Linked DNA regions of Homo sapiens. The protein of the gene in region 3 purifies or fractionates together with the protein of the main gene of each other region. This does not show direct contact. Each region holds a gene or a part of one and is shown on either strand. Other genes may lie near its edges. The genes, in order: CLTB, CLINT1, MAP3K9, DNAJA3, NCS1 and AP2A2.

Region 1 (3,538 bases), on a different chromosome or scaffold from region 3:
CTCTAAGAAGCTAAAAGGAGGATGATGGGAGTATTAGGGGAAAGGAGAGAGGATCTGTGCAGAGGTGGGGAGGCGGAGTCCTGCAGGGCCCTTCTGTCCCTGCCCCTGGCTGTGCCAAATGGAACTGGAATAGTTGTGGGCAGGCTCGTCCTTAGGCTGTATTGGCAACTGGGTTTGTAGCTGGACCCGCTGGTGGTGCACGGGCTGCAGAAAAGAGGAAGAAAGGAAGCACAAAAGCTCTGTCTGGGATCCTTGAAAGTGTTGGGTGTGCACAGGCCAAGGTTTCTCCTCCCCCTGCAGGTGCAGGCCAGACCTGCTATGCTCAATCCTAAAGAGCTGGGGCTTTCCACCTGTGACCCAGGCGCTGTGGCCAGCCAGTTCCAGCAACAGAGTCGTAATGCAAAGCACACCGGGTCGGAGCCCAGGAGATGTAGGCAAGCTGGGGCTTTGCCACTAAGCTTCTGAGTGATTCAGCTCATCTGTGACCCTGCCCTGCCTGTAAGGATTCTCGGATGGCACTGATGTGATATGATTTACAAATAAACACACCTGCTGTGATTCTTAGTAACAGTGAGAATAAGAGTTCTCACTCAGATTGGAAAGGAGGCCCCGGGCTCCTCAGATTCACCCACAGCTCACCCACGGCTGACAGGTCGGGAGGGAGAAGGCGGGGGGCCAAGTCAAATGGGGTGCACTCCAGAAGTGGCTGATTTCCTGGGTGACTTTGCATTCACCACTTCACCTCTCTGAGCTTCGTGATGCTAATCTTTAGGAAAGGTAAATGATCCAGCTCAGAGTGTTCTAGGTACTTTCTTTTTTGAGACAAAGTCTCGCTCTGTCGTCCAGGCTGGAGTGCAGTGTGCGATCTCAGCTCACTGCAACCTCTGCCTCTGGGTTCAAGCAGTTCTCCTGCCTCAGCCTCCTGAGTAGCTGGGATTACAGGCAACCACTACCCTGCCTAGCCAATTTTTGTATTTTTAGTAGAGACAGGGTTTCTCCATGTTGGCCAGGCTGGTCTTGAACTCCTGACCTCAAATGATCTACCCACCTCAGCCTCCCACTGCTGGGATTACAGGCGTGAGCCACTGTGCCCGGCCATGTTCTACATACTTCTGTGGTTCCAAGCATATCTCCAGCTCCAGGTGCACTTTAGGACACAGAACTGTGGGGTCAAGCAAAGTCCTTCTGAATGTGGCCAGAGAGCCTGGGCAGCCTAAGTCTTAATGATCTACCAAGCTGCACAGAAGCAAATCCTCATTCTTTGACTCCCTCGGGCCCAACTAGACATGAAGCTGCTGAAGTCCTAGAGATGGACTTTTCCAGCTTGCTGATAGTTGAGTAATTTTCCAGAAACAGGACTTGGCCAGTCTCCCTGCATAAGGTACCAGCCCATCCCTCTTACATAAGAAAATAAGTATTGTTTACTCCCCCAGAGGATTCAAGAAGCCAGCTCCTCCAGGGCGGGGCTCAGAAGATCCCACAGCCAAAGACCCCAGGATCAAGGCTCTTTGGCCCAGTCTGAGTGGGAATGAAGGCTCTGAGGGGAGGTTTAGCCCCACCAGGCATCTGGCTGGGGGGCCGAGGTGAGGACTATTGCATGCCTCTGTGGTCTGAGTTCCCTCAGAGTACTAAAATGGATTTGTGTGTATGCAAGGGGAAGAGAGTTAGGTGGGTGCGGACAGAAGCAGTCTTAACTAGAAATACACTTACTAGGGTTTTCCTCTTTTTTTTTTTTTTAAGACTGTCATGCCGGGCACGGTGGCTCGTGCCTGTAATCCCAGCACTTTGGGAGGCCGAGGTGGGTGGATCACTTGAAGGTCAGGAGTTCGAGACCAGCCTGGCCAACATGATGAAACACCATCTCTACTAAAAATACAAAAGATTAGCTAGGCGTGGTGGCGGGTGCCTGTAATCCCAGCTACTCAGGAGGCTGAGGCAGGAGAATCACTTGAACTCAGGAGGCGGAGGCTGCAGGGAGCCGAGATCGTGCCATTGCACTCCAGCCTGGGCAATAAGAGCAAAACTCCATCTCAGGAAAAAAAAAAAAAAAAGACTCACCCAGGCTAAGTGTAGTAGTGTAATCATAGTCACTGCAGCCTGGACCTCCCCAGCTCAAGCTGTAATCCTCCCACCTAAGACTACTGAGTAGCTGGGACTATAGGCACACACTATTGCCCCAGCTAATTTTTCATTTTTTGCAGAAATGGGGTCTTACTATGTTGCCCAGTTTGGTCTCAAACTCCTGGATTCACATGATCTTCTCACTTTGGCCTCCCAAAATCTGGGATTACAGGCGTAAGCCGCCGTGCCCGGCTGGGTTTTCCTCGTTTTTTGCAGGATAAAAACACTTAAAGAATTTGTAAACAACCCAGTGAAAGTGAATGCCCCTTTCTTATCCCCATCCCACCCCACCCTTGGGGCTAACCATTGTTAACAGCTGGTACACATCCTTTCAGATATGTAGTGCAAACCTTTAGTTTTATTTTTTTGAGATAGAGTTTTGCTCTTGTTGCCCAGGCTGGAGTGCAGTGGCGTGATCTCGGCTCACCGCAACCTCCCACTCCCGGATTCAAGCTATTCTCCTGCCTCAGCCTCCCAAGTAGTTAGGATTATAGGCTTGTGCCACCACACCCAGCTAATTTTGTATTTTTAGTAGAGGTGCGGTTTCACCGTGTTAGCCAGGATGGTCTCAATCTTCCAACCTCATGATCCACCTGCCTTGGCCTCCCAAAGTGCTAGGGTTACAGGCATGAGCCACCACGCCCAGCCCAAACATATTTTTAAAATTGAAAAAAAAAAAAAAAAAAAGGACCATACTGTGTATATTATTCTGCAAGCTGCTTTTTCCACTTAATATATTGTGGACATCTTTTCACGTCAATACAGGAAGATCTGATTGCCCTTTTTTTTTTTTTTTTTTTTTTTTCAGACAGAGTTTCACTCTCATCTCCCAGGCTGGAGAGCAATGGCACAATCTCAGCTCACTGCAACCTCCACCTTCTGGGTTCAAGTGATTCTCCTGCCTTAGCCTCCCGAGTAGCTGGAATTACAGGCACCTGCCACAATGACTGGCTAATTTTCTGTATTTTTAGTAAAGACGGGGTTTCACTATGTTGGCCAGGCTGGTCTTGAACTCTGACCTCACGTGATCCACCCACCTCAGCCTCCCAAAGTGCTGGGATTACAGGCGTCAGCCACTGCACCCGGCCCTGATTGCCCTTTTTAACAACAGCCTGGTTTTCTAATCTATCTATTCAGTTCCCTGATGCTGGACACTTAGGTTGTCTCCAAATTGTCTGCCATTATAAATAACCCTGCAAAGAATCTGGGTGGCCTTGTCCAATTATTTCCTTTGGGAAAATTCTGGAAGTGGAATCTCTGGATCAAAGGGCCCGCCCTGTGTGTGGAGATGGCCTGGGTTCTGCCTCCCGTCAGTGGTGAGGGAAGGCCTTGCGCTGCCTTCATCTCATGCTGCTGTGGGCCACTTGACCTCTCCCTCCCAAAACCAGACATCACCATGGGCAACCTGAGGCTACTG
Region 2 (3,538 bases), on a different chromosome or scaffold from region 3:
TCTCAAGTAAATCCTGATAGTTAGGTTTTACATATATATTTTTAAACTTGGTAAGATATTCTACAATGATTTTACCATATATACTTTTGAGAATGCTAAGAACATGTAATCACACACACACAAAAATCTGAACATTTTCTCAGAGGATATATTTAGCTGGTGAGTGGTACAGATGCCATATCTGCTTAGCTTTACAGTTTGTGCCCACATTACTTGCATGATGGTACTATTATAAATATGGGCACATCTGGTAAATGACACCCAAATGACATACCAAATAGCAATGTTAATATGGTAGATTCTTATACCTTCTCGTGTAAGTGCTAAAGATTTAATGCCCAATTTCCTTTCACTGCTGAATTCAATTTAAAATATATTATTAAAATATTTAAATAGAGATTGGGAGTAACTAAATTTATGTACTGATTGAAGAGGGAGCTGCACAAACTGGTTAAACATACGGTTTCAAATAGGAGATAACTTTAATTTTAAAAAATTCTTCTAATATCAATCTCTATTAGTTGCTTTTTATTAAGATAAAATAAAATTTAAGGCAAGAAACCTCCTAGATTTCATTCAAACTTTCTCAGTTACTATATTAATATCAATTGCTACTTCTATTTAATTAGTCAAACTACTGTTTGCACTGGAGAAGACAAACCACTCAAAGGTTCCTTGCCAAGTAAAGGAAGCATGTTGGTATTTAATAAATCTCTCTGTTCAAAGCAATCTTGATGTCACAGAGGAAAAGTTACATCCACCCATCTGACCTTCCTAGTTAATTCTTCTCTGATTGCTCCATTAAAACTTTTCACAGATGCATGAAAGGGGCCCTTTAAATATTTCATGCCAGGAAGTCCAAAATAGTTGATATTCTGTGACACTATATCTGTATTATATGACTACATGCTAACTACCAGTTAATTCTACAGTTCAAATCTTAAACATATAAAAATATATCACATAAATTGTTACACAACTAATGTAGCTGTCCGTAACCTTGGGCATTACAGTCCAATCAAGTTTAATGAATAATTTTAGGAACAGTTTGCAGTTACAGAAAAACGGGAAAGGGAATTGAAGAATTTCAGAAAGTAGGCTGGCCAGGCATGGTGGCTCACGCCTGTAATCCCAGCACTTTGGGAGGCCAAAACAGGTGGATCACCTGAGGTCAGGAGTTTGAGACCAAGCTGGCCAACATGGAGAAACCCTGTCTCTACTAAAAATACAAAAATCAGCCGGGCGTGGTGGCGCATGCCTGAAATTCCAGCTACTCAGGAGACTGAGGCAGGAGAATCGCTTGAACCCGGGAGGCAGAGGTTGCAGTGAGTCAAGACTGTGTACTGCACTCCAGCCTGGGCAACAAGGGCGAAACTCTGTCTCAAAAAAAAAAATAGAGAAAGAAAGTAGGTCAAACCAGATGTCTGGGCTGGGTGCAGTGGCTCACACCTGTAATCCCAGCACTTCGGGAGGCTGAGGCAGGCAGATCACCTGAGGTCAGGAGTTCGAGACCAGCCTGGCCAACACAGTGAAACTCCGTCTCTACTAAATATACAAAAATTAGCCAGGCATGGTGGCAGGTGACTGTAATCCCAGCTACTCGAGAAGCTTAGGCAAGAGAATTGCTTGAATAAAGTTCATGCCTAATCCAAGAATTTTAACATAGTAGGTAAGGAGGAGGAAATAATAGGGGGCTTTATATTACATTAATTATACTAAACTATCAGTGAAAAGTAATTTCCAGCATAGACTTACACTTAAAGGTTAAGTTAAAGTTTTTTTTTTTTTGAGACAAGAGTCTTGCTCTGTCACTCCAGCTGGAGTGTAGTGGCATGATCTCAGCTCATTGCAAACTCCACCTCCTGGGTTCAAGCGATTCTCCTGCCTTAGTCTCCTGAGTAGCGGGGATTAAAGGTGCCCATCACCACGCCAAACTAATTTTTGTAGTTTTAGTAGAGACAGGGTTTCACCATGTTGGCCATGCTGGTCTTGAACTCCTGACCTCAGGTGATCCGCCTGCCTCGGCCTCCCAAAGTGCTGGGATTACAGGTGTGAGCCACTGTGCACAGCCACAATTCGGCTTTGAAAAATCATTACACACAACTGGGAATAATAAATTTACTTTGCACATTAGTCATACCCCCATCTTACTGTCTACATTTTAATGTGAAATGAACTTAGGCTTGGAAAGACTGTCTTTAAACAGAAGATGTATTTGTTAAACTATTTTGACACGTCACACAATAGTTTATTAAAACTCCATAATCATCAAATACAACCCTAAAAATATCAATTTTCTTGAAAACAATTGATCAGAAATTACTCAAAATCTAGCACATACTGGAAATCAAACTGAAGAAATCATCAATCTCATCTATGAGAAATTCAAGGTAAACAGTTCTTTTGCTGTAGCCCTCTCTTTTTTTTTTTTTTTTCCGAGATGGAGTTTTTCACTGTTGTTGCCCAGGCTGGAGTGCAATGGCGCAATCTCCGTTCACTGCAACCTCCGCCTCCCGGGTTCAAGTGATTCTCCTGCCTCAGCCTCCCGAGTAGCTGGGATTACAGGTACCTGCCACCATACCCGGCTAATTTTTGTATTTTCAGTAGAGACAGGGTATCACCATGTTGGCCAGGCTGGTCTCGAACTCCTGATCTCAGGTGATCCACCTCCCTCGGCCTCCCAAAGTGCTGGGATTACAGGGGTCAGCCACCACGCCCAGCCGCCCTCTTTAAATATGTTTGGTAGTTACATACTTTCAGAGAATGTCATTCCTCTGACTGAAGCACTTGCCATTGTTTATCACTAGATAACTATTTGTGACTCTGATTAATGATTATTTTCTCCACTTGACCTTCGCATGAGGACAACAACTCTGTTTTTTACAAGCACCCAGATCAGTGTCTGGTTCAACAAATATTTGTTCAATTAAAAGAATAAAAAGTTAAATGATCTCTAGGCATGCCCAAGGTGACAGCTGCAATTAAAATTTAGGGAAAGACAGTAAAATGCGCAGAGCAGTACCTTTTGCTTATAAAGAAAGTAAAGGCAACAGTTTAAATGCAATTTTTTGTTTCTCCAAGTTAATCTTAAAAATTAAAAATGGAAACTATAGATTCCAAAATCTATGATGAAAAATTTCAGAAAGTACATGATGCCTTGAAATACTATTTATTATTAATTAGGGAAGACACAGTACATCAGGTATGAGGAGTCATTAAAATCTAAGTATGATAATGATTTGAGGATACTATTATTAACCACCAATAAGTACTGACCACAAACAAAGTTTTGCTAGTCTGAGGGTGGGTCAGAAAAAGGTATAAAATAGGGATAGAGAAATGGGTGTACATATAAAAAGATAAGCAAAAATAACACAATGATTCCAAATAATGCTCAAGACTCACTAATTTCATATAAAAAATGAACCCAATGCAAATAAGTAATCTTATTTTTCAATCTATCTTTTATTTGGCATTTTAAAAAATGACTCTCAAACCAAAAGAAAAGGCCAATGTAGAAGCTTACCTGTTGACTGGC
Region 3 (3,538 bases):
ATTGAAGAAATAAAAGTATATTCTATCCAGACTTGAGTGAAGACCCCTTTAATGTCAGAAATTTTGAGAACTTCTATGTGATATTATTTCTGGTTTTAGTACCTTTTGACTAAAGAAAACACGTGATGAACAAAAGCCATTTTGAATTCAGTAATGTTAAGTGAGTTTTGCATCCTCATCCTTTTAAAAAATAATACATATTTGTCCAAAACATGCATACCTGTCTATAGACTGCTTGGGTATCTATGGATTCACAGTCCCCCTGCAACCGTGCTGCAGCTGCCCAGGGATCTTTGTCCTGGGCCTGTCTTGGCTTAAACAGGACCATCTTGTTAAGATTCTTTCATGGTGTGGGCTTTGTGTCTGGACAGTGGGAAGGCAGCTGGCGATGTGGTGTGAATCCAGCCTTGGGTGTTTTGGTGTGGGAGAGGCTGAGCTGGATGTGCCCTCCATTGCCTGCTACTGATTCTCTTTATTCATTGAAGATCCCCTCAGAGACGTGAGAAAGCTAATGGTTTAAGTACCCCATCAGAATCTCCACATTTCCACTTGGGGTGAGTCTCATCTTCACCCTTTCACCAGCTGTCCTGGTAACAATCTCCCTTCCATTTCCTTGTTCTTACAGCATACCCCATAGAATCAAGCCTCGTTATTGCCAGGGCTGAACTGACTTTTTTGTTTTTGTTTTTGTTTTAAGCAGTACCATTGTGCACCTTGGGAAAATTCCTGTGTTGATCTAATTTTACCATATTCTTCACTCCACTGACCACTCCAATTAGGATACTCCTGGCACTCTTGGTTTTAGAGAGGCTTAGATATGTGGCTATTTATCCTTTGGTCTTCAGCACTGGTTTTGACTTTACTAATCTGGATTTTCCTGGATCCAGAGCTGGAAGTGATGTTACGAGAGTCTCAGTAGGAAGCCCCAGGCTGTGGGTTTGGCAGCAGGCTTATCTCTGACTATATTTTGGTTGAAACCAGTGGTGGTTGGGATGTACTTTAATTTGCTGGTATTTCTGATAGCACTTGAAACAGAATTCTGAACAGCGAAAAAGTTGGTCCTCTGTCTCTCTCAAGATGGCTGGGACTTTGGGGAAAGTGGTCTTTAGTTGAATGATTCTTCCTAGACTTAAAAAAAAAAAAAAAAAGAGCCACTCTGGTCATAATCCCAATATTTCCAGGGCAACCATAGCCCACAGATTCCTCAGTCCTCCCTTTTACTGTCCTCTAGGGAAAAGACCAGTGCTTCTAGGCCTCTGGTTCCCCCCTCCTACAAAGTGGTTGGCAGGGTGCCCAGGCTGTATCCTCGGAGAGTTACCGGCTTTCCATATGGGCTGATGACAGGGATTTGAAAGCGAGCTCCTGTCCTCTGTCTCTCCACCCCCAGACAGACCAAGGGCTCTGCTTCAGCACTGTGCACTACCCACGTAGGTCTGTCCCACAGTGCACTGGGTTGGTGCAGCTTTGTGGGTTGGTTTTGCCTTTTAAAAAGGGGATGGCTTTGAAAGTTGCCTAAGCATGCCATAAAGCTTGGAAGGAAAGCCTGAGAAATGCCTTATGTGGAGTAGCCTGGTCCACCTCTGCTAGCTCGGCTGCCCGGTGCTTGCCTGGCTTCGCAGGTCTTTGCATCACCGTAACTGTCATGCCATGAATGTGTTGTGTCCAGTGTCTGCTTCGAGTGCTTCTCTCTTGAGATGGGCTCAGGCAAGACCCCCAGCCAGCAGGGCCATCCTTATTCTTTCTGTCTGCTTGCCAGCTTGCCCACTAGTTCTTTCTACAGTTCCACAGCAGCATGTGAGGGGGATGGGTCATGTCATTGCCCTTTTCTTCCCTGGAGCATGTGCATTTCTGTTTGTGAAGCAGGTGGGCTTGGTAAGAGTCATTGCCTGTATGTACTCCAAGGTTCTTTGGTAGAATGAAGCAGGCAGGGAGAAACGTCTCCATAGACCCATGGAGCTGAGGGTCAAGTAAGAAAGGTAACCAGTTCTGACAGTTTCCTCTTTTCCTCTGATTCAGCCTCAAGTCCCTGGTAGATGGATATAAGCAGTGGTCGTCCAGTGCCCCCAACCTGGTGAAGGGCCCAAGGAGTAGCCCGGCCCTGCCAGGGTTCACCAGCCTTATGGAGATGGGTAAGCATAGCTCCTCTTGAGAGTCTTGGCTGTCTCCCTGCTCCCTGGGGGCATTCTTGCCCAAGCTTCTAGGACCATTTAAGGACCCCTAGCACTGCTTCATGGAGGAAACATTGGGAATGTTTTTGTTCTAGAATGTTCAGTGTTCTAGAAACTCATACTACACTTGTATTAAGGGGCCGGTATTAGTCAGGGTTCTCCAGAGGGAGAGAACCAATAGCAACCAAAAGGAAGTTTATTAGGGAGAATTGTCTCACACAGTTACAAAGGCAAAGTCCCATGACAGGCCGTCTGCAAGCTGGAGAATGAGAAAAGCCTGTAGTATGGCTCCCAGGGAAGACAGTAGAGTGGCTCAATCCCAGTTTGAAAGCCTTAACACCAGGGAAACCAGCAGTGCAGCTCCCAGTCTGAGGCCTGAGAGCCTCCGAAAGGCCTCAGTTACAAGTCTGAGAGTCCAAAGGCTGAAGAACCTGGACTCTGATTTCCAAGGGCAAGAGGAGAAAAAGTGTCCCTCTCCAGAAGGGAGAAACAGAGAGAGGAAGCTCAGCAAACTGAGCATCCCCCTTTTTCTGCCTGCTTTGTTCTAGCCTTGCTGGCAGCCAGTTGGGTGGTGCCCATCGACATTGAAGGTGGGTCTTCCTCTCCCTGCCCCCTGACTCCCATCTTAGTCTCCCCTGGAAACAGCCTCACAGACACACCCAGCAACTGTGCTTCACCAGCCATGCAGGCATCCCTCAGTCCAGTCAAGTGGATACCCAAGTCACTATCACAGATCCCTTATGAAAGAAATGGCAAATTAGCGGATCTTTTATTCTGCTCTAAGGAAATGGGCTCTGGAATGGAGAGTGGTTTCCCTGTGTTGGGGGGTGGATAAAGCCCCCTTGGTTCAGTGTTCAATTCCATGTCCTGCTCATCACACCATTGAACCTTTGTGTCCCTGAGACTGAGACAGGAGGCCTGGGGTGAGGGGAAAGGGCCAGATTCTTATTCCTGCCACCTCATTTCCATTTCCTGTTTCTCTTCCACTCTTGTCATCTTCACAGAGGATGAGGACAGTGAAGGCCCAGGGAGTGGAGAGAGTCGCCTACAGCATTCACCCAGCCAGTCCTACCTCTGTATCCCATTCCCTCGTGGAGAGGATGGCGATGGCCCCTCCAGTGATGGAATCCATGAGGAGCCCACCCCAGTCAACTCGGCCACGAGTACCCCTCAGCTGACGCCAACCAACAGCCTCAAGCGGGGCGGTGCCCACCACCGCCGCTGCGAGGTGGCTCTGCTCGGCTGTGGGGCTGTTCTGGCAGCCACAGGCCTAGGGTTTGACTTGCTGGAAGCTGGCAAGTGCCAGCTGCTTCCCCTGGAGGAGCCTGAGCCACCAGCCCGGGAGGAGAAGAAAAGACGGGAGGGTCTTT
Region 4 (3,538 bases), on a different chromosome or scaffold from region 3:
CTCCCAATCAAAAAAAAAAAAAAAAGAGTTGAGGTCTCACTCTGTTACCTAGGCTGGAGTGTAGTGGCGAGATCACAGCTCACTGCAGTCTCAAACTCTTGGGCTCAAGCAGTTTTCCTGCCTCAACCTCAACTTCCTGAGTAGCTGGGACTACAGGTTCCCCACTGCACCCAGAAGATTCAATTTTTAATGGGGCGGGGGGGTGTTATTCTTGTGAATGTGTTTTTCCACATGGTTAGTTGATCTGATGTTTCTGCCAGGGGCATGAGTTTTGGAGAGTCCTAATCCACCGTGTTGCTGACTTCTGTCTTCAAGGGGGATGTTATTAAACGGACCGAGCCTCAGAACCTAAGAGCAGCAATTCCTTGGGAAGGGCTGGAACCAGGAGATAAAACCCACCAGGAAGTCATGAACTCCCACCTGACTCCTCCTCTGCCAGCCTTCCTCCTTTGCATCTTAACTGGGTGCCCTAAAAGTTACCCTAGGCACCAAGCTGTCCTCCACCTGCTTTCTTAGTCCCCCTCCATTCTAGGTGGAAGTGTCTTTTCCTTTGGAGGAAGCGTACTCTTTTCTGTTTGGCCTTAAGGATAGTGCCTATTTTTTTGAGATAGTGTCTCACTTTGTTGCCCAGGCTGGAGTGCAATGGTGCAATCACGGTTCACTGCAGCCTCAACCTCAACCTCCGTGCTCAAGCAATCCTCCCACCTCAGCCTCCCAAGTAGCTGGAACTATAGGCGTGCACCACCATTCTTGGTTAATTTTTTTGTATTTTTCTTGTGATGGGGTTTCACCATGTTGCCCAGGCTGGTCTTGAACTCATGAACTCAAGCAGTCCACCTGCCTTGGCCTCCCAAAGTCCTGGGATTACAGGTGTGAGCCACCATACTCAGCCTAGGGCAGTGTCTTTTTAATTAAAGAAAAAAAAAGTAAGACAAACACATAAAAAAAAGATACAAAGTGAGGGCCAGGCACGGTGGCTCACGCTTGTAATCCCAGCACTTTGGGAGGCTGAGGCAGACGGATCACGAGGTCAAGAGATCGAGACCATCCTGGCAAACGTGGTGAAACCCTGTCTCTACTAAAAATACAAAAAAATTAGCTGGGCGTGGTGGTGCATGTCTTTAGTCCCAACTACTCGGGAGGCTGAGGCAGGAGAATCACTTGAACCCGAGAGGCAGAGGTTGCAGTGAGCCGAGATCGCGCCACTGCACTCCAGCCTGGCGACAGAGCAAGACTCCCGTCTCAAAAAAAAAAAAAAAGATACAAAGTGAATACTACATTTTTCCTTGTCCCTCCCTAATCCCCCTTTTTGAGGTAGTTAGTCCTTATTAACAGTTTTGTGGGCCAGGCCCAGTGGCTCATGCCTGTAATCCCAGTATTTTGGGAGGTCGAAGTGGGAGGATCGCTTGAGGCCAGGAGTTTGAAAGCAGCCTGGGCAACATAGCAAGACCCTGTCTCTACAAAAACTTAAAACAATTTGCCAGGACTGGTGGTGTGCACCTGTAGACCCAGCTACTGTGGAGGCTGAGGCAGGAGGATTGCTTCAACCTGGGAGGTTGAGGCTGCAGTGAGCTAGGATTGCACCACTGCTATTGTCGTTGCTGTTACTTCTGTTACTCCGGTTGTTCTGGCTTGCAGAAAACCTTTCGATGAAGGTAAGGGTAGGAAGCATAAATTCTCTACGAGGTAATGTCCCCTGAGGAGAGAGGTGAAGTGTGAATCTGTGAAGAATCCAGGGTGCCTGTGAGGTCAAGCGAGGATCAACACAAACATTTTCCCAGCATGCGCGACGGCGGGAGAGTTCGTGAGACTTTTGGAAGCACTTCACGCCCTACACTTAGCATTCAGTTTGGTCATCTCATCCCTCTTCTAGGTGCTAGTCACAGGCCCACCCCAACCTCATAGGATGTGTTTGCACACAGGGCCACTTAATAAATGTTATGGCTGCCTTATTTGCTGTGAACTCTTGTCTGTATTCCTGGGCCTTGGTAGACCTGGGATGCCCAGTGGCTCTGCCTTTCACTGTAGGTTTTGAGTGATGAGGTGAAGAGGAAGCAGTACGATGCCTACGGCTCTGCAGGCTTCGATCCTGGGGCCAGCGGCTCCCAGCATAGCTACTGGAAGGGAGGCCCCACTGTGGACCCCGAGGAGCTGTTCAGGAAGATCTTTGGCGAGTTCTCATCCTCTTCATTTGGAGATTTCCAGACCGTGTTTGATCAGCCTCAGGAAGTAAGTTCCTCACTTGGAAGAATTATTCAAATTTTAGACTAAGTATGGGTCAAACAAATTTTTTTATCAGTTTCTGTTTCTCAGAAAGGCAAGGCAGCTTAAATGGAGTGATCTGGAGGCAGCCATTTTAGTAGAAAATAATTTCAGTATTTGAAAAATCGCATAGGTAGTAATGAGTATGTCCATTCTGATGGTATTCTTAACAGTTGCATAATGAGGTAGCACCTAAGGCTTTCAGAGCCCATGAGGGTGTGAGTGTTGTCTCTCATCTGCTACAGTATTCCAGGAGAGTTCTGTCCGGTGGGAAGGCACTGCTGATCCTCTCTCATTTATGTCCTTATAAGACACTGTCAGAGTGGAAGAGAGAGGGGATATATTTATGATCTAAATTATGATTGTGGATCATTCAGGCTGTTTTTAAGTGCCATGTACGAGTATTTATCTGTGAACATTTTCAGTCTGTTGAAAGTACGTTTTCATTTAAGTCATACATTATCTCTTAAAAATCCCAAAGAGTAGGGCAGAATTCGTTCAGTGAGTCCTACCTATGCTTACTTGGCAGAGTGCAAGTAAGTACAGTGGTGAAAGAGTGACTGAAAATGTGGGCCAGTACCCTCCTTTCCCTTTAGAGCCGAGCGTCAGTTTTGGTCGTTGCAAACAAAAGTTGACAGGCTGTCCCTTGGTTTCTTTAGTACTTCATGGAGTTGACATTCAATCAAGCTGCAAAGGGGGTCAACAAGGAGTTCACCGTGAACATCATGGACACGTGTGAGCGCTGCAACGGCAAGGGGAACGAGCCCGGCACCAAGGTGCAGCATTGCCACTACTGTGGCGGCTCCGGCATGGTAAGGCTCTGCCCGAGACTCCACCTCCCACGGCTTGCACCACTGACTGAGAAGAGCTGGTTGTGGCACTGCTCCCAGAGAACGTATGCTGGGAATTGGGGGAGTTGGTGAACTCAGCCTGGCTGTCTTTCCCCCGTGACCCTGAGGAGACGAGCCTGTGCTCCTCTTTCCCTGATACCACAGGCTCAGCAACCAGAGCACAGCAGCTCCGGGGGCGGGGCGGGGGATTGCATCCAGTTGTCACTTTCTTCTTTATTTTTCTAACAATTGCTTTGGTAATTCAAGGGGAAATAATCTTTTTTAAATGTACTGTTCAGCTCCCAGGAGTCTTCAGGTACTTCTGTAGACAGGCGGTATCATATTTTTCAGTGTCGTGTGGTCAAGTTGATGATCTGGAGTGCAGAAGTTTGTGTGTTCTAGAAAATCAGATGAACAGATTGAGGCCCTGCACCTGGGTTCCTAGG
Region 5 (3,538 bases), on a different chromosome or scaffold from region 3:
TGAGAAGTTTCCTAGAACAGGGAACTTGCACTGCTAAATCCAGGATAGACCTGGGCAAACCCTATTGACAGCTGAACTGCATACTCCTGAGAGTCCTTGAGCCAGAGGCACCCAGCTTAACTGTGCCAAATTCCTAATGTTTGTTCTTAAGCTGCTGTTTGTGGTAATGTAATATGTAGCAATGGATAACTAACCTAGCACATCACAAATGAGCACATTAAAATGGGTGATACACTTATAACAAGGCATTCAACGTCACTGCTTATCAGAGAAATGCAAAGTAAACTTAGAACAAGTTATTACTCCATACTCACAAAAATGGCTAAAATTTGAAAAGACAGAAAATACCCAGTGTTGGCAAGGATGTGGAGCAACTGGAACTCTCATACACTACTAGTGGGACCGCAAAACAGCACAACCACTTTGGAAACTGTTTTCTAGTAACTACCAAAGCTAAATATTACACATATCCTATGTCCCAGCAATTCTACCCTTACATATACACCAACAGCAGGCATCCACTGGTTCACCAGGACGTGGACAAGAACGCTGATCTCTGGACAATACCTTGGACGTTATTCACACCCACTCCCCGCAGACTACATTGAACACTCCACAAAGAAGAGGCAGGAAAAAAGGGGAGAAGGGAGGAGAGGAGAAGGAAAGAAGGGAGACAGCTCTCTACCAGCAACAGGGGCCTCTGCCAGGCGTGCTATCATTCTGTGACAGCTAGGAGCTTAGTTAGGTCTTCAACCGGCTGCTCAGAGAGGGGATAAGAAATTGCTCTCCCAGGTCCCTGGCCCTGGTTGGGAACTAATTTTCAAAGTGTCTTCCACCCAGGACAATTCTTTTCTTTTTTTTTTTTTCTTTTCTTTTTTTTTTTTTTTTTGAGATGGAGTCTCACTCTGTTACCCAGGCTGGAGTGCAGTGGCACGATCTCGGCTCACTGCAATCTCCACCTCCTGGGTTCAAGCGGTTCTCCTGCCTCAGCCTCCCAAGTAGCTGAGACTAGGTGCGCACCACCACGCCCGCCTGATTTTTGTATTTTTAGTAGAGACGGGGTTTCACCATGTTGGTCAGGCTGGTCTTGAACTCCTGACCTGGTGATCCGCCTGCTTCAGCTTCCCAAAGTGCTGGGATTACAGGCGTGAGCCACCGCGCCCAGAAAAATTCTGTTCAAGCAAACTCGCAGGCTGATCTGGGTCTATAAAAATGATCAAAACAGAGGAGCTCTGACCAATTTGAAGGCCCCCCTTCCAGCCTCCTCCTCCCAGCTATGTCCCTGCTAGGCTGACCACAACACCCCCAGAGACCCAGGTAATTACCTGCCAACCGTAGGTGTCCTGCTGCTGGGTTTTCACCCCTGACCCATCCCAGACCCACCCCAGGCCCCGAGTCTGCACTCACCCAGCTCCAGCCTGGGACTATACCAGCCCGTCGTAGAGGGACAGCGCCTGCACAATGGACGGGTCTGCCTTGGAACCCTCCTGGAACTCCTGCAGGGTCAGCTTCCCGTCGGCATTCTGTGAGCAGAGAGAGGCGGCTGAGGGTGCAGGGCCTCCCAGGAGAGGGCTCTAGACAAGCCCAGCCCAGGGCCGGTCCCAAGAGCCCTTCCAAGGTTAGATCAGGAGGGAGGCAACGTGGCTCAGGGCCTACAAGCAGCCAGCACCAGACAGACCTCGGCACTCATGGCAGGGTGGCCTTGGGCCGTGGCCCACCTCTCTGGGCATGTTTCTTCACCTGGGGATGGAGGGTAATTACCTGGCTTCCTCCAGGCACTCGGGTGACAGCTCTGTGCTTGACCAACTGGAAGTGCCCTGTAACTCCACACGTGTCATGGTTAATGCTATTAAACCCCATCAATGTGAGTAACTGACAAGGCTGAGAGCCTCGTGCAGTTCTCTGGGGTCACTCTTGGAAGGGCATTTAAACTGCTCCTGGAGCAGCCCACACTGGACCCTGGGAGACCCGGCAGGGGGCTGGACATGGCTCAGAAAGAGGAATTTTAGTGGGTCTCTCGGGGAGGGGATGTTTGGGCCAGAATCCCTTCCCCGGAGCATCTCTCAAGGAAGCCGGCGGACCACAAGGAAAAGGCCACGGAGAGCACCTACTCGATCTCGGGTATCCAGAGAGGGTAAGTGCCGAAAACAGCGCCGATGAGCACAACCGAGCTGTGCTCAGGGATCGCTCGCTGCGTACACGACATATGCCAAGCTCGGCGCAACCCTCAGTGTATGGAACCCTCACGGCCAAGCCAAGAAGGGGGTGCTGCTCTCATCCCCATTTTACCAGTGAGGAAGCTGAGGCTCCGTCACCTACCCAGGCCCCAGGGCTGGGAAACGGAGAAGTCAGATTCACACCCCAGTCAGTGTGACTACAGGGTCTGTGCTGTTTCCCAAAATGACGGAAGTGCAGACAGGGGGACAGTAAGGAATGTGCGGCCTTGGCCTTAAGCCACGTGGACGCACACCACGAGAAACTTATTATTCCGTGCTCCACACTCTGTCGATAAATCTTTTGATCATTACCAAGACGCCAGCTGGGTCTGAGGCCAGCACGTCTCTACCACTCCTCTAACATGGGCTAATCTCCCTTTTTTAATTAAGAAAGTACAGGCCTCAGGTCAAAGCTTTTAGGGCAAACAGCTGTCTCCAGCCAGAATCTAATAAGCAGCCCTGCGTTACAGGAATTTCTATGATTGACTGATCGATTGATTGATTGAGACAGGGTCTCACTCTGTCACCCAGGCTGGAGTGCAATGGCACCATCACGGCTCACAGCAGACTTGGTTTCTCAGGCTCCAGCCATCCTCCCACTTCAGCCTCCCGAGTAGCTGGGACCACAGGTGCACACCACCACACCCGGCTAATTTTTGTATTTTTTGTAGAGTCGGGGTTTCATCACGTTGCCCAGGCTGGTCTCAAACTCCTGAGCTCAAGTGATCCACTCGCCTTGGCCTCCCAAAGTGCTGGGATGACAGGTGTGAGCCACCGCACCTGACCATTTTATGTTATTTTGCTGAAGGCACGTAACACCTGGATTTCCCTAACGTCATTATTTCAAATTTACATTTAAGTTATTTTAGTTTTAAGTAAGTTTGATTTAAAGAAGGATTCCTTATTTCTTTGGAGTCCCTTTTTTTAGGCTTTTATTTTAGGCTCAAGGATACATGTGCAGGTTTGTTATATAGGTAAATCCTGTGTTGTGGGGGTTTGCTGTACAGACTATTTTGTCACTCAGGTGATAAGCATAGTACCTGATAATAGGTGGGTTTCGATCCTCACCCTCCTCTCACCCTCCACCCTCAAGTAGGCTCCAGTGTCTATGGTTCCTTTTATTTTATTTTTTTTCTTTTGAGACAGTCTCACTCTTATTGCCCAGGCTGGAGTGCAGTGGTGTGATCTCGGCTCACTGCAACCTCTGCCTCCCAGGTTCAAGCAATTCTCCTCCCTCAGCCTCCCGAGTAGCTGGGATTACAGGCATGTGCCATCATGCCTGGATAATTTTTTTTTTTTTTTTTGAGACTGCGTCTCACTCT
Region 6 (3,538 bases), on a different chromosome or scaffold from region 3:
TAGCCCTGTCTCTTGATTCATGGACCTTTCTGCCAGTGCTGCTGTATGCGCTGGCTTTCGTGGAGCAGTTATTGCAGAGCCTACAGTTTTGTTAGTGTTTGGGTCTATTTGTGCTTTTATAGTATCAGATTTGTGCAGGTTTTCTTTTTGAGATGGAGTCTCCCTTTGTTGCCCAGGCTGGAGTGCAGTGACGCGACCTCAGCTCACTGCAACCTCTGCCTCCCGGGTTCAAGCGATTCTCCCACCTCATCTTCCTGAGTAGCTGGGATTACAGGCACCTGCCATCATACCCGGCTAACTTTTGCGTTTTTGTAGAGACGGGGTTTCACCATGTTGGCCAGTCTGTTCTTGAACTCCTGACCTCAGGTGACTGGCCTGCCTCGGCCTCCCAAAGTGCTGGGATTACAGAAGTGAGCCACCGTGCCCGGCCTGTCTCAGTTTTGTAAATGCTTCCAGCTGGGTACACAAATGTGAATGAACTATATTAAAAATGCTCTCATGATGTATGGGTGCAGCCGGGAGGGGCAGGGTGGGCTGCGGGCCACTGGAGACTGGTGAGCACCGTTCTGTCTTGCCCAGAAGACCCTGCAGTGCGAGGCCGCCTGACTGAGTGCCTGGAGACCATCCTGAACAAAGCCCAAGAACCGCCCAAGTCGAAGAAGGTCCAGCACTCCAACGCGAAGAATGCCGTGCTCTTCGAGGCCATCAGCTTAATCATTCACCATGACAGGTGTGTCGGCTGCCTGTGGAGAGGCTTCGTCTCGCGCACACACACACGTTCCTTCTCGTTGGCACGAGACTGGGCGGATCATGTCTGGTTTGTCCACTCCATGGGCCTCCCCTTCGTCCTGCCTCTGTGCTCCCTGCCGGATGCTTTTTTTCTTTCTGTGCAGCCCGGCCCCTCCTGCTCTGAGCTCACCGTGGATTGCTTTGGTGACTGTGGTCTCATCCCACACGAGGGCCTTTTCCTCCTTCCCCTGAGCATCCCCACTCCTGACTGGCTTCTCATGTAGTGGAACAGAGAGGAGACGGGTGGGGTGGGGGGTGTGCGCGCATGTCCCGTGGCTTTGCTGGATGTGGAGCCGCACTTGGTGGGTCCAGGGTCGCAGGGCAGTGCTGGAAACGTCTGTGCCCATCCACGAAGCGCAGAGGCGCAGGGTGGCGGTCGCTCCACACAGCCTGGAGGGTCTGCCTCCTCTGCTCCCACGCCTTCTCTGCTCAGCAGTTGCGGCGCACCACATGTGGTCTGGCGTGGGTCTTGCGTGTGGGGCCATGCTTTAGGGTCCTGTGAGAATGAGATCGCAGTTCTCACCAGGCTCCCAATAATGAGGGCACGTGCCAGGCTGTGGGCAGACGCTCTCTACAGCTTGTGAACACCACCCATTTGCTACTACAGCATTTTTACAAATGATGAAAACTCAGTCTGAGAGTCACACTTCAGAACTGAGAGTTATTAAAACTGAAATTTCCCATTTTGGAGAAAGCTCTGTTGTTATGTGAGGAGAAGCCACATCCTGAGGAGACAGTAGAGTCAGTGGGGCAGCAGCCGCGCTCCCGGCCTTCTCGGCCTTCTCCCTGCCCTGGGCTGGTGCCTCTGGCTGAGACCCCATTGCCGGTCACAGCTTGACCGGCCTCCCGCGGGCCTGATGCAGATTGAGGCTCAGGAGGTGCTGGGAAGGCTCCAGTGGACACACGGGCTGCTGACTCACTGTGGGGATGCACAGGATGGACACAAAATGGATGTCAGGGGTGGGGGTCGGGCGTCATCTGCATCTGGGGAGGCCCCCGAGTTCCCACTTGAGCAGTGTGGTGGCGGTGAGTGCCGTGTGACTTTGCTGTCTGCCATCTGGACCCGTCGGGGAACGCAGACTCTGTCCAGTTTGTGTTGCACTTGCTGAGGAAACCCCACCCACTTCCCCTCCCTCCACACAGTGAGCCGAACCTGCTCGTCCGTGCCTGCAACCAGTTGGGCCAGTTTCTGCAGCACCGCGAGACCAACCTGCGCTACCTGGCCCTGGAGAGCATGTGCACGCTGGCCAGCTCTGAGTTCTCCCATGAGGCTGTCAAGACGCACATCGAGACGGTCATCAACGCCCTGAAGGCGAGTGCCCTGTCCTTGGGTTCTGCTCACTCCCTGAGCAGGTGCCGTGGGTCTTCCTGTGAAGGCTGGGGGTACGCAGTGCCTCCTGACTCCCCGCAGAGATGGAGGTGGTGCTGGTGCTGCTGGCCTCCGCCTGTCACCTACTCTTGGGAGGTCACACCACTGTTGAGGGCCATGCTGCCTGGAGATGGCCGGGTTGGCCCTGCTGTCCTGGTTAGGCTGAGCAGAGGAGTCTCTGGCAGCCCTTTCCCTGCTGGGGGCAGCCCCCGTGTGCCATCCTGCGCGTGCATAGTGCTGACAAGTAGAAATGGTTCTTCTTGGTAGAAAGATGAAATTTTTTTCCCTTATCTCCAAGAAAATCCCCCTTTTACAAAGGAAACTCACTTTGTTCGGGGATTAAAATTTCAGAGTTGGGGCCGGGCGCGGTGGCTGACGCCTGTAATCCCAGCACTTTGGGAGGCCGAGGCGGGTGGATCACAAGGTCAGGAGATCGAGACCATCCCGGCTAACACGGTGAAACCCCGTCTTTACTAAAAATGCAAAAAAAAATTAGCCGGGCGTGGTGGCGGCCGGTGCCTGTAGTCCCAGCTACTCAGGAGGCTCAGGCAGAAGAATGGCTTGAACCCAAGAGGCGGAGCTTGCAGTGAGCCGAGATCGCGCCACTGCACTCCAGCGTGGGCGACAGAGCGAGACTCCGTCTCAAAAAAAAAAAAAAATTTCAGAGTTGGAAGAGCCCAGTTGAGGTTGGCCATTGCCAGCCTTTGCGAGTCTCCAGAGCGACCCCGAGGGTTCGTTCCACATAGGGGACCCTGCGGTGTGTCCACCAAGTCCCTAGTCACCGGTGCACATGCGTTAGGGAGTGGGAGGCGGGGAGCTGCATGTCCCCCATCTGGCTCAGCCTCAGGCTGTGGCAGGGCTGCTCCCAGTCCCCCGCACGTCTGCGTGCAGCTCACAGATATTCCGGGTGGTGTGCAAGGGGCTCGTGGTGGGCATTTGGTATTCTGGATTCTTCTTGGTCCTGGTTTTGGTGTTTGTTTTAGTCAATCCCTATTGTCAGAAGGGCTGGACACTCATTTGCACACGGCCAGTGCTAGCGCTGGTGGTGCCCACTCTCCTGCCTTTGTTGGGAGCAGAGCTCGGGCTTTCTCGTGCTGCAGAGCCTCCTGGGGGCCCATCAGCACGGGCTCTGGGGTGGGGCGTGAGGACCTGCCTTGGGGCAGCTCCGTGTCCGAGGCAGTGGGGTCTTTGGCTGCATGGAAGGGAGTCCTTGATGGCCTGCACCAGGCAGTGCGCTCAGTCCTAGCGAAGCTGGCCCTTGTGGAGGGCAAGGGAGGCATGGACGAGCGGGCAGAATCCAGGCAGTGCGCTGGGTCCTAGCGAAGCTGGCCTGTGCGGGAGGGCCGGGCCAGCAGGCGGAACTCTATTCCGGGCTGTCCA

What was found.
Region 1: the proteins of MAP3K9 (region 3) and CLTB purify together in Homo sapiens (affinity purification with mass spectrometry; one large-scale study listed by BioGRID and IntAct). This does not show direct contact.
Region 2: the proteins of MAP3K9 (region 3) and CLINT1 purify together in Homo sapiens (affinity purification with mass spectrometry; one large-scale study listed by BioGRID and IntAct). This does not show direct contact.
Region 4: the proteins of MAP3K9 (region 3) and DNAJA3 purify together in Homo sapiens (affinity purification with mass spectrometry; one large-scale study listed by BioGRID and IntAct). This does not show direct contact.
Region 5: the proteins of MAP3K9 (region 3) and NCS1 purify together in Homo sapiens (affinity purification with mass spectrometry; 2 studies listed by BioGRID and IntAct, with this or other methods). This does not show direct contact.
Region 6: the proteins of MAP3K9 (region 3) and AP2A2 purify together in Homo sapiens (affinity purification with mass spectrometry; one large-scale study listed by BioGRID and IntAct). This does not show direct contact.

The regions. Positions count from the first base shown.
Region 1 is NC_000005.10:176,406,505-176,410,042, forward strand, and holds part of CLTB (clathrin light chain B), read right to left. Parts: intron 205-3,538; coding exon of another isoform or gene 34-204; exon of another isoform or gene 1-33. UniProt on the Homo sapiens protein: Clathrin is the major protein of the polyhedral coat of coated pits and vesicles.
Region 2 is NC_000005.10:157,800,124-157,803,661, forward strand, and holds part of CLINT1 (clathrin interactor 1), read right to left. Parts: coding exon 3,527-3,538; intron 1-3,526. UniProt on the Homo sapiens protein: Binds to membranes enriched in phosphatidylinositol 4,5-bisphosphate (PtdIns(4,5)P2). May have a role in transport via clathrin-coated vesicles from the trans-Golgi network to endosomes. Stimulates clathrin assembly.
Region 3 is NC_000014.9:70,732,977-70,736,514, reverse strand, and holds part of MAP3K9 (mitogen-activated protein kinase kinase kinase 9), read left to right. Parts: intron 1-485; coding exon 486-554; intron 555-2,016; coding exon 2,017-2,129; intron 2,130-2,716; coding exon of another isoform or gene 2,717-2,758; intron 2,759-3,172; coding exon 3,173-3,538. UniProt on the Homo sapiens protein: Serine/threonine kinase which acts as an essential component of the MAP kinase signal transduction pathway. Plays an important role in the cascades of cellular responses evoked by changes in the environment.
Region 4 is NC_000016.10:4,439,347-4,442,884, forward strand, and holds part of DNAJA3 (dnaJ homolog subfamily A member 3, mitochondrial), read left to right. Parts: intron 1-2,028; coding exon 2,029-2,229; intron 2,230-2,921; coding exon 2,922-3,074; intron 3,075-3,538. UniProt on the Homo sapiens protein: Modulates apoptotic signal transduction or effector structures within the mitochondrial matrix. Affect cytochrome C release from the mitochondria and caspase 3 activation, but not caspase 8 activation.
Region 5 is NC_000009.12:130,224,374-130,227,911, reverse strand, and holds part of NCS1 (neuronal calcium sensor 1), read right to left. Parts: intron 1,524-3,538; coding exon 1,425-1,523; 3' UTR 1,408-1,424; intron 1-1,407. UniProt on the Homo sapiens protein: Neuronal calcium sensor, regulator of G protein-coupled receptor phosphorylation in a calcium dependent manner. Directly regulates GRK1 (RHOK), but not GRK2 to GRK5. Can substitute for calmodulin. Stimulates PI4KB kinase activity.
Region 6 is NC_000011.10:984,853-988,390, forward strand, and holds part of AP2A2 (AP-2 complex subunit alpha-2), read left to right. Parts: intron 1-579; coding exon of another isoform or gene 580-582; coding exon 583-730; intron 731-1,932; coding exon 1,933-2,101; intron 2,102-3,538. UniProt on the Homo sapiens protein: Component of the adaptor protein complex 2 (AP-2). Adaptor protein complexes function in protein transport via transport vesicles in different membrane traffic pathways.